3 linked regions of the Homo sapiens genome follow. The protein of the gene in region 2 binds, or shares a complex with, the protein of the main gene of each other region. Each region holds a gene or a part of one and is shown on either strand. Other genes may lie near its edges. The genes, in order: GID8, ARMC8 and GID4.

Region 1 (3,745 bases), on a different chromosome or scaffold from region 2:
AGAAGAGATGGAGAGCAAGGTGAGATCAAGATGCTTTGGCCAGAGTCAATGGCTGCTGCTAGACAGATTACCGGACAAAAGAGAGGGAAGAATAGAAGATGGTCACAGGTTTCAAGCATGAGAGGCCCTGCAAGATGGGGCCACAAATAAGGAGGAAGGACTGGAAGAAGAACAGGTTTGAGAAGCAGGGCAAGTTTGACGTGACTATTAGACATGCGTCTGGAGAAATCAAGCAGGTGTCTGAATTACAGATCCTGAGCTCAGAGCTGAAAACATGAATTAGTGAAATAAGGGGCGGGGGGGGCGGTGCTGGGGCACAGGGATATTTAAAGCCAAGAATTCAGCAAAGACCATAGGAAGAGCGTAGATAGGGAATGAGAATCGCCATTACTTGGAGGATGCCAACCTTGAAGGTAAAGCAGAGAAAGTGGCACCAGCAGAAGAAAACTTGATGTGGAGCGGCAGGTAAAGTGGAGGAGAAACCAGGAGTCGCTGTCACACACGAACACCCATCTTTCGTTGTCAACTGCAAAACTCACTGAGACCAACTTTTTATTCACGACAATTAATGGTAACTTAAGGACTCATTTTCTTTTTCTTTTTTTTTTGAGACAGAGCCTCGCTCTGTCGCCCAGGCTGGAGGGCAGTGGCGCGATCATGGCTCACCGCAGCCTCGACCTCCTGGGCTCAAGCGATCCTCCCACCTCAGCCTCCAGAGTAACTGGGACAACAGGAGCGCACCACTCTGCCTGGCTAATTTTTTTATTTTTAGCAGAGAAGGGAGTCTCGCTGTTGCCACGGCTGGTCTCGAACTCGCGGGCTCAAGTGATCCGCCCACTTCGACCTCCGCCACCGCGCCCGGCCCTAGGACCAACGTTAAGAGCTCCCTAGGAAAAGGCACCTTTTCTCTCGGCCCATTCGGTGATCGGCACTCACAGCGCTTCCACTCCGGGCAGTTACGTGCGCCCATGAAAAGCAACAACTTTGTAGAACTGGCCAGTCCTGTTAGCAGGAAGAACTCGGTAGTCTCAAACTCCAGCATAAAAAGATTCAGCAGAAGAAAACACCCGTGTGCTGAAGACTCCTACTTTCCATGCCACACTTTACATCCTCACCCGCTCGGTTTCTGCTTTAAAGCAGCAGATTTTATTAAAAAGACTTCGTTACGGACGTCGCTCCTCCACAGAGACAGCTACCGCCGCCCCTCAGGCTGGCCGGGACCGCCCCAGAACACCAGCGCCTGAGGCCGCGCGCCTGGAGGCTGAGCCCTGACTGCCCCCTGGGCACCGGCGCGGGGCGGCCGTCCGGGCCTGGACTCACTGCGCGCCCCAATTCCGCACCTGCCAGCGCCGGCGCTTCCAAGGCCCCCAGAGCGGGGGCGGCGCGCACCCCGGCCACATCCCGCCTGCCCGCCCGGCCCGGCCCCGGGAGACGCTCGGCCCGGCCGCCCGGGCCCGCCGCCGCCATCTTACCGTGCGGAACCTGCCTCCCGCGCTGCGCGGTCTGGGCGGCTGCGGCTCCGCAGCCTCTCCTGGGCTGGGGAGAGGTGGCGGCCGCCGGGGCGCCCGAGTAGAAGGAGGCAGAGGTGGGGGCCGCGGCGGAGGCGGGGGCGGGGGCGGGGGCGGGGAGCGGGAGGGCAGGCGCACCGGAGGCCGCCCCTCAGCACCTCTCGCGACAGCAAGAGAGCGCGAGAGCGCGAGCCGATGACCAATGAAGCGCCCCCGCGAGGGGGCGGGGCGGACGGCCTCCCGGAAGCGCGGAACCTCAGCTTCCGTACTTGCGCAGAACTCCCCTCGCGGCGACCACGCACTACGGGTTGGCGCCAGAGTCAAAAGGCGTCGGCCCTCTGGCAAGATGGCTGCTGCGGAGGCGTTGGAGCGCGGAAATCTGGAACCGGGATGGCGACGTCTACACTGAGTCGGAGGCGAAGGTCCCAGCTTTTTTCCTGTCGTTTGCGTGAGGCCGCACGGGGTGGGGCGGGGGAAAGGCGCCGGGTGTCCGCGGCCGCCCCTCAGACGGGGAGGGAGTCCCCTCCCGACCGGCGGCCTTCCAGGGCTAGTGTCCCTGAGGTCCAGGGAGAGACGGCTGACCCGAGACCGGGCTGGGCGAGAGCTGTGCTGTCTGCGCGTTGAAGCGAGTTCCCCCGCTTTACTCGAGATGTTGTTGAGCGCGTCCTCACTCGAGGCCAGGTGGGGAATCAGAAGGGCCCTGCCCTCAGGGCGCCTCCCATGGGCTACGCCGAAGGGCGGGACGCGGCCAGGGCGCGCGGGACAAAGGAGACCCCACTTGCTTGCGGGGCGGAGTCCCGGCGGCGGCGCGGGGCAGGGCCGGGGTTACTCGGTGACTGGAGACCCTCCCGGCAGGAGCGCGGGTTGAGGCCGCACTTGGGTATTTGCGCGTTTACTTGCTTATTGCCTGTCCGCTCAGGAGGAATGCGAAGTCTGTCATTGCAGGGTCCCATGTTTCCGTTGCTGGGAAGTACCTTAAAATATTTGATAGAGCCGAAGGAAGAAATAGAGTCCTTGAGGGGCAGCTCCTGATTTCATCTGTGAGGAATTCACGGGACGGCTTCTTTCTGAAGTCAGGGGTGAGGTGGTTTCGTGTGTTTGCTTACAAGCGAGCTGAACAACGTGTAAGCTATGTCGGTCGGTCTACTCAGCGACAGTAAGTCCAGTTCGGCAAATAGGTTGGAGGAGACTGATTTTGGACATTTTCCGTTAATCGAAAGAGCTAAATCTGCAGGTATAAGGTCTTGACAAAATTATGCTTCATATGCAGAGGCAGTACATGCCAGTAATTTTTTCATTTGCAACTACATAACCCTATGGGAAACAGTTATTGGTCTTTATTTAGTTATTTATTTTGAGACGAAGTCTCACTCTCGCCCAGGCTGGAGCGCAGTGGCGCCATCTCGGCTCACTGCAACCTCCGCCTCCCGGGTTCAAGCGATTCTCCTGCCTCAGCCTCCCGAGTAGCTGGGACCACAGGGGCGCACCACCACGCCCAGCTAATTTTTGTATTTTTAGTAGAGACGGGGTTTCCCCTTGTTGGTCAGGCTGGTCTCAGTGTCTTGACCTCGTGATCCGCCCGCCTCGGACTCCCAAAGTGCTGGGATTACAGGCGTGAGCCACCGCTCCCGGCCTATTTTGATTTTATTTTATTCTATTTTTTGAGAAGGAGTCTCACTTTGTTGCCCAGGCTGGAGTGCACTGTCATGATCTCGACTCACTGCAACCTCCGCCTCCTGGGTTCAAGTGATTCTCCTGCCTCAGCCTCCCGAGTAGCTGGAACTACAGGCACCCGCCACCACGCCCGGCTACTTATTTTGTATTTTTAGTACGGGTGGGGTTTCACCATGTTGGCTAGGCTGGTCTCGAACTCCTGACCTCAAATGATCACCCACCTCGGCCTCCCAAGGTGCTCGGATTACAGTCATGAGCCACCGCATCCGGCCTATTTTTATTTTTTAAAGTTTTTTAGAGACGGGGTCTTGCCTTCTTGCCCAGGCTGGTCTCGATCTCCTGGGCTCAAGCCATCCTCCCGCCTCGGCCTCTGGGAGTGCTGGGTTTACAGGCGTCAGCCACCATGCCCAGCCTGAACGTCAAGGAGAAAGTGTGCAAGGGGATGCACGAGCAGAAAGCTTGAGTGCTAGCGCCTTAAGGCGACATTCCTTAACATTCCAGTCCAAAGAGGCTGTCTCAGTGCCTGCCTGTGGGTCACAGGTTAATGCTCCTCCTCCCAACAG
Region 2 (3,745 bases):
TTACCAAGGAAGTGAAACAAATGAAAACTTTCAATCATATGCATTATACAAGTTGACAACATCCAAAAAGTAAACTTCAGGTGAACTGAAGGATAAATGAAATCTAAATGAATAATTAAAGGAGAACTGAGAACAGCCAAGACACATACTATTTTTTTTTAACATAATGAGGTAAAAGTCATTGGCCTGCACTCCCACAGAATATTCCTGGGTATTACAGTCAGTGATGGAGTAACAGGCTAATCTGATCTAATACTTAGGTAAACAGTATTTCCTTAGTTGCAGTTTAAAAATAAGAAAAAATGACTGCTAAAATGGATCAGGGGAAAAATCTGTTGACAGCCTCACAAAATTATTATTGTATTGACAACTTAAGCCTTTTCAAGGTTGAGGTCTGCCACACTGCTCTAACCCTGAATCATAAGCAAATGTCCTAGGTGTTTTCAGATAGGTGAGTTTGTTTGTGGGACAAGTCAGAGAAGAGAAAAGAAACCGGTTGTAGTTACAAGACTCTAGGAACCCGACAAGTCATTTATAATCCAACTACCCTCTCAGTATCAGACTGGCTTCCACAAGTCTAAAAGATGGTCAATCAGTATTTGCCTGCTTGTTTCCAACAATAGCAAATGAACCATTGGTAAACTGACCATTCTCAGAGTCGGACAGCTCGAATTTGTTGCAAAATCCTTCGAAGTTATCTCCCAGTAACTTTCATTCCTGGTCCTGGTTCAAGAGCAACATAGTGAAAGGTGAAAGTCGTCTTTTTCTTTAAAAAAACTTTTTTTAAAAAAAAAAAAAACAGGTTTTACTTCCTGGCATGTCAATACGTTCCCTTCTTTCAACAATGGGGAAATAAATCTCACCCCCTTTTCCCCCCTTCAATGTTTGACTCCCCTTAAAGAAAAACGGAATACCAGGCACAGGGAACATAGAGTTCCTCTGACTCAGAGCCGCGACCTCTGAGCAGAGCGGAGGAAAGGGGCTTAAAAAACCACACACACTAGGAAGAGTTGCAGCTGATACGAATCACCATTGCCAAAAAGCAAACTGCTTCAGCCGGTGCCCAGGTGCTGGGACGCGATAGAAGCCGCACAGACTTGGCCTGGCAGCTCTGAGGAAATGGGGGCCAAGGAGCCTGCACCTCTTCTTGCCAAAGCCCGGGAGAGCTGAGTGGGCGCTCGTTCTCAGGCCGGCTGCAAGCCCGGCGCTTCACAAGGCAGAGCGTTCGGCCCCCGGGAAGCGGCATCGCTAAAAGGAAGGCTCAGTGAAACGCTTGGCAAAGTCCAAGCCGCGCCGCCCAGCCAGTTGTCTATAAGCCCAGCCACCCCGCCTGCCAGACGCCATCCTGGGAACCCGCACCGGCGGGAGCTCCCGGAGTTGGAAACGTCTTTGGCTCGGCCGCGGTCCCCTCTGCCCGTCTATCCCGCCTCTCCACCCTCGCTCACTCCCTGGCCCGAGACTGAGCCGGGGTCCACCCCAGGGGGTGGTGCCCAGGAGGCACACCACGCTTGGGGGAATGGTGGAGACCGGGATGAGGCTTCCTGGAGGGCGGGCGGGCGGCCGCGGCGGGTCACTCACCGAAAGGACGCTCATGCGGATTGGGGTCTCCAACAAGCACGCCATCTTGAGCCTTCCCACCCGGCTGCTGCAGGCGCCGGCGCGGGGGCCGGCACTTTCGACAGCCAACTATTGGCCAACGCTAGGCACCGCTCCCTAAAGGCAGCCAGATAGACGAGAACTGGCCACGCTCTGGACACCGCTCAAGTACCGGAAAGGCCCGCAGAAAGAAGGGCAAAAGGGAATGGCGTCAGGGGCTGTCCTACGAATCGTTCTCTCAGAAACAGCAGCTACTCTGAGCCTGGGTTAGAGGTGGAAGCGGGCAGCGGTTTCCGCATGCGCAAAGAAGATCTGCCGGCCCCACCTGCCGCTCGCGGTGGGCGGGGCCCCAGAGGCGGAGTCTCGCCCTGACGCTACGAGTTTTACGGACTGATAAATTGCAGTTTATGGATTCCAGTATTCATATTTGGAAAAAGTAGTACGTGGAGCCACATACATAGTTTGAAGTTCACTTTCATATTCATTCTCTCTCTCTGCACCAAACTCCCGGCGTCGTTATCTCCATTTTATAGGTGGGGAAATTGCGATCCCAGAACCTTTGCCAACCGTAAGAGTGATTGTTTCACGATCCGATACAGATACGTGACTTGCCTTAGCGTTGTGTGCCGGCCCCGTTTATTCTGGTGTAGTGTTAAGAATAGCCAGAATGCTTGGGTTTCTTCCTAGCTACTTGATTTATCAGCTGCTTTACCCTGGGCAAGTTATCTAACCTTCTGTTTGAGTTTCCTCATCTATAAAATAAAGGTTAATGAGGATAGAGGAGTCAACAAACGTGAAGCTCTCAGAAAAAACCTAGAACATAGAAAGCGTTATACAATATGTGTTAACATTTCTCCAGCTTCTGAGTTAAGTGGGGAAAATGGGGGCAAATATCTAAATATTTCGCACTAAAACACTCTCATAACCGAAGCTAAATAAAAGTATGCTTTCAATTATACTTGATTAATTCAGCTGTCCTACTACTTTGTGTGTGTGTGTGTGTGTGTGTGCAACACTGCCCTTGACTTGGTTGGATAAGTTTCACCTTCGTACTGCTTGCAACCAGTAAGGTTTTCACAGTATGGTTGCAATTGGCCTGTTAACATTACTTGTATTCCTTCCATTTCTATAGCCACACCCTAATTCAGGCTCTTGTAACCTCTCCCCTGGACTACAGCAATAGCCTTCCAACTGGTCTTGTAGCTGGTAGCCTCTCCCGCACTCTGCTCCTCACTGTTTTCCTGTCTTCCTCCTGTACTTGGTTTCCAAATTTAGTGTAGCATTTACCACCCCTGCTTATGGGTCTGTGTTCCTTAACAAACTGTTGAATTCCTGGAAGGCAGGAATTTTATTTTAGGTAGTCCTTCTGCTATAATACTATTTCTGAAACTTGGGTAATCTGTACACCACCTACACAATCTTTGCCAATCTGCACCTAGGTATTATTATTCATTCAATATTTTTATTTAAAGCCAATTTCAACTCATTAAAAATTTTTGGCTTTATCCTAAACCATAATACTCTGTGAAATCAAGTTTGTTGTGCTCCTTATTTTTATTCTAGTACACATTAACTACAAAAAGTTTAAATGTCCATCCATGGACCACCTAAAATCACATCATGTACTGCATACTGCAATGGGGCAGAACATAACCCTAATACATAGTATATAGAGTCATTATAACTGTATTTGATCCACACTCCATCCATTAGCTCAAGCAATACATCCTCCAGGAATTGTCTCCCCCAGGCATGGGTTAGATACCCTTTCCCCCATGCCTTCATACTTCACTTTAATTGTAGGGTGGTTTTGTTGTTGTTAATTGTTTCCGTGTTTGTCTCACTATACACTTCAAGACAGGCACTGGGAGTTTTATCTTCTAGGTTGTCTATCTCAGTGCCTAGCACAGTCACTTAGTAAATGTTTGTTGTACGAATTTTTGGCTTAGTTTGAGCCTGGGACGAAGATTTGGGTGCATTTTGTTTATTTAGTAAGTGCTTTCAGGGAACAAAATTGATAGGTCAGGGAGAGTGAAAAAAGAAAGAATAAATATTCAAGATAATTGTCCATTATTGATGCCACTGTTTATTCCTCAATCACCTCTGAAAACATACAGAATACCTCTCTGGATTGTCCATCTTGAAGCTA
Region 3 (3,745 bases), on a different chromosome or scaffold from region 2:
CGCCCAGTGATCCCCATTTCTTTTTTTTTTTTTTTTTTTTTTGAGATGGAGTCTTGCTCTGTCGCCAGGCTGGAGTGCAGTGGCGTGATCTCAGCTCACTGCAACTTCCATCTCCCAGGTTCAAGTGATTCCCCTGCCTTAGCCTCCTGAGTAGCTGCGACTACAGGGGCATGCCAACATGCCCGGCTAATTTTTTGTATTTTTTAGTAGAGATGGGTTTTCACCATGTTGGCCAGGATGGTCTCAATCTCTTGACCTCATGATCTGCCTGCTTCAGCCTCCCAAAGTGCTGGGATTACAGGTGTGATCCACCACGCCCGGCCGATCCCCACTTCCTAAAGTGGTTAGCTATGCAAAATAAAGACCAGGAAAGGCAACTCAATATGATTCATCTTTATGAAAGCTGACAAGATTTCAAGATAAAACGACTTTTTCCCTGCAGACTGGGGACTAGGGGTTGGTATGTTCTCAAAGTTATTTAACAAACTGGCTTCCTGATTTTGCTATTCTGGGGCTGTAAATATCACGTTATCAAAGCAGGGAGCACAAATGACCTCGCAGCTAAAAGCCAATCCATCAAGTCAGTCAGGTGGGGCTCTCTGAGGTCTGCTGAGTCAAAAACCCGTGTTCCATTCCCGGTCCCTCATTTCCTGAGCTGGAGGGAAGTAGAGGAGGTGAGACTTTCCTGAGCTCTGGGAAAAGGATGTGGTGGAGGGCACCTGGCCCACGGATGGTGTTTAAGCCTGTAGAGGGATCTGGGTACAACTGATGACTAAGTTCAAAGCAAGTTTGGCTCTGCCTTGAATCCACAGAACACTTGGAGTGATTCAACTTGGGGGTTCAACAAGATTCTTGGGTGGGAGAAAGGAAAGGGAGAAGACAATGTTAGAGGCAGCCACCTAGGCCCAAATCCACTTGCTACCCACCAAAAGCACAGCGAGGAGGAGCTGTCTGGGACATCGGCAGTTAACCAGTGCGTGCCCTGGAGCTGGGCCCACTTTTTATAGGCGTGCAAAGACCCTGCCATGAAGACTTTGCCATGACAACCAGCTGTGACGAGCACTGGACATGGGGAGCCCTTGGTTAGAGTGAATATGTAGGTGCGATACAGGGCCTGGCTTGCTGGGAGTCTGGAGGGCCACCTGGTGGGAACTTACCTTCCACCTCATGAAGACGTAGTCTCCATTCTTCAGCTCTTCATAATCAAAGTCATCTGAGTTAAATGATTTTGCATACTGATAAAAAGCCAGAAACTTGCCCTGAAAGCAGAAAAGAGAGTGTGCCGATTGACTGAGAGAAGGAGAGGCTGCTCTCAGAACTATGCTTATGTGCCCAGGTAAACTCACCTTCCCAAGGCATGACAGCTAGGGACGTGGCTCCCAAAAGGGCAGCTAAGACCAAGTAACAGATGGGGCCCTATGGTCACCCCATTGAATGCAGACTCAACCCTGGGGCAGATACCTGGACTCCAGCTGGGGCCCCACTGCCCTACACCTGCCTTGTTAACATGGCTGAGGAAAAGGCCAAAGGATGGGAATGGTGAACAGACAGACAAAATAAACAGACGAAAGCTAAGAAAAATTAATGAGAAGACCTCTGCAAGTAAATCCGAAGTAGCAAAAAGAGCCATGCAAAACAGCTTAGAAACAGCCTGCCCAGTCTCAGAGAAGAGGGCTTTGTGAAGCTTGTGTCTCTGCATGATCTAGGGGCTTGGGCCAGCTAGCTAAGCAGACACTAGAAACACATGATAGCCTTGTCCTTCGATATCTGCGAGAGATTGGTTCCAGGACCCCCATGAATACCAAAATCTGCAGATGCTTAAGTCCCAGATATAAAACAGTGCAGTATTTGCAGATAACCTACACACATCCTCCCCTATACTTTATAGCATCTCTAGATTGCTTATAATACCTAATTCAATGTAAATACTAAGTGAATAGTGGTTATACTGTATCGTTCAGGGAAAAATATCAAGAACAAAAAATCTATACATCCACTGGGTGTGGGGGCTCACGCCTGTAATCCCAGCACTTGGGGAGGCCAAGGCAGGCAGATCACAAGGTCAGGAGATCAAGACCATCCTGGCTAACACGATGAAACCCTGTCTCTACTAAAAATATGAAAAAATTAGTTGGGTGTGGTGGTGGTCGCCTGTAGTCCCAGCTACTTGGGAGGCTGAGGAGGAGAATGGCGTGAACCCGGGAGGCGGAGCTTGCAATGAGCCGAGATCGTGCCACTGCACTCCAGCATGGGCAACAGAGCGAGACTCTGTCTCAAAAAAAAAAAATCTATACATCATCAGTACAGATGCAATTTTTTTTTTCAAATATTTTCAAACTGTGGCTGGTTGAATCCACAGATACAGAACCCACATATATGGAGGGCTGACTACATTTACAACAGGAGATTAGGAATAGGTTACAAAACTGTATTTTATGATCCCATTTTTTAAAAAAAAGACAAAAAACAAGTATACACTGTATACCCAAAAGAGATTCAGGAAGAGGTTAACAGCTATTTTAGTTTTAGGTGTTGCCATAGATGACTCCTTTTCCTCCAGCTTTTCTATTTTTTCAAATATTTTTAAACAAGCATGTGTTAATTTGATAAGAAAACATCTTAAATAAAAAATCAAGACACAGAGATATTAAGTCATAGATTTTGTCACATAGATTTATTTTATTATTATTTTTTGAGACAAAGTCTTGCTCTTGTTGCTCAGGCTGGAGTGCAATGGCATGATCTCAGCTCACTGCAATCTCCGCCTCCCAGGTTCAAGTGACTCTCCTGCCTCAGCCTCCCGAATAGCTGGGATTACAGGTGTGTGCCACCATGCCTGGTTAATTTTTATATTTTTGGTAGAGATGGGGTTTCACCATGTTGGCCAGGCTGTTCTCGAACTCCTGACCTCAGGTGATCCATCTGCCTCGGCCTCCCAAAGTGCTGGCATTACAGGCATGAGCCACCACACCTGGTGTCACATAGACATTTTTATCCTATGTAGACTGAATATATGGAATCCTGACTTTATAGTACCACTATAATAGCAACTTAAATACCACTCAGGAAAATCTGAGGATGCAATACAATATCTCTGATTCTAGTTTATAATGAAAAAATGACAGCCTAGGTGAAGTGTATTAGACATTGTAAATCTCAGACAAACCCAGGTGCAGTACAGAGCTCCAGGAGTCCCACGTGGGAACCTGGGAGTCCTCCATGAGTGGTGAAAGTTAGGGGAAATGCTGAGTACTACAAAAGCAGCCACAAACTGTTGGAGGAGGAAGCACTCCATAGGTTCAGCTCCCTGGCTCAACCACACCTCACATGCCAGTACCAAGGGTGGCCTTCTTAGTTCCTCTCTCACCCAAAATGTTTCAGTCCAGTCTAGCAGAGTCTGCAGATCCAGATATCTTCCAATGTTCTAACGGAAGTCAATGGGAAAATTAAGAGTTGCTTTCCAAGTATTTAATTTGTAGTCAACCTAGCCTAAAACTGAGTGTCACTGGGCCTCAAAGACTTTGCTTTTTGCAGGACCAATATGAAATGGAAAATAGAGTTGAATGGGAGAGAGGCTGTGGTTTACTACAAGGAAGAACCTTCTACTCTGGGACTGTACAGGAGAGGAAGGAGCCATCTCGTGAGGCAGCAAGCCATGCAGGAAGAGCCTAGCCCTGGGCAGGGGTGGGCGCAGATGGTACTAGGGAGCCCTTCCAACTCCACCTGCTGGTGGCCAGCACCTTCA

Evidence for each region.
Region 1: the proteins of ARMC8 (region 2) and GID8 are in contact, whole or in part, in a cryo-EM structure (PDB 7NSC), measured with the Homo sapiens proteins. Residues at the interface, in NP_001350870.1 of Homo sapiens: Asn45, Val47, Ile48, Gly49, Asn50, Val85, Ser89, Met92, Arg127, Arg130, Arg161, Tyr162, Tyr166, Leu200, Ser201, Tyr202; in NP_060366.1 of Homo sapiens: Ile83, Ala84, Asn87, His90, Pro91, Glu92, Leu94, Asp95, Thr96, Tyr101, Tyr183, Glu184, Asn185.
Region 3: the proteins of ARMC8 (region 2) and GID4 are in contact, whole or in part, in a cryo-EM structure (PDB 7NSC), measured with the Homo sapiens proteins. Residues at the interface, in NP_001350870.1 of Homo sapiens: Glu309, Pro310, Asp311, Val312, Asn371, Glu373, Arg406, His409, Arg413, Ser414, Val415, Gln416, Arg419, Thr420, Gln423, Asp424, Val444, Ser448, Cys451, Asn452, Leu455, Phe457, Ala483, Val486, Asn487, Trp490, Met493, Asn494, Phe497, Gln498; in NP_076957.3 of Homo sapiens: Leu104, Ile105, Pro106, Pro107, Pro108, Pro109, Ile110, Gln114, Pro115, Gly116, Val117, Ala118, Thr119, Gly125, Gln146, His147, Tyr154, Cys156, Tyr158, Phe174, Glu176, Phe239, Val241, Pro242, His244, His292, Ser293, Ala294, Pro295, Ile296.

Annotation. Positions count from the first base shown.
Region 1 is NC_000020.11:62,935,981-62,939,725, reverse strand, and holds the start of GID8 (glucose-induced degradation protein 8 homolog), read right to left. Parts: upstream 1,580-3,745; 5' UTR 1,473-1,579; exon of another isoform or gene 902-1,472; intron 1-901. UniProt on the Homo sapiens protein: Core component of the CTLH E3 ubiquitin-protein ligase complex that selectively accepts ubiquitin from UBE2H and mediates ubiquitination and subsequent proteasomal degradation of the transcription factor HBP1.
Region 2 is NC_000003.12:138,185,433-138,189,177, reverse strand, and holds the start of ARMC8 (armadillo repeat-containing protein 8), read right to left. Parts: upstream 1,878-3,745; 5' UTR 1,624-1,877; coding exon 1,579-1,623; intron 778-1,578; exon of another isoform or gene 651-777; coding exon of another isoform or gene 648-650; intron 1-647. UniProt on the Homo sapiens protein: Component of the CTLH E3 ubiquitin-protein ligase complex that selectively accepts ubiquitin from UBE2H and mediates ubiquitination and subsequent proteasomal degradation of the transcription factor HBP1.
Region 3 is NC_000017.11:18,056,382-18,060,126, reverse strand, and holds part of GID4 (glucose-induced degradation protein 4 homolog), read right to left. Parts: intron 3,425-3,745; coding exon of another isoform or gene 3,101-3,424; exon of another isoform or gene 2,656-3,100; intron 1,260-2,655; coding exon 1,158-1,259; intron 852-1,157; coding exon of another isoform or gene 828-851; exon of another isoform or gene 379-827; intron 1-378.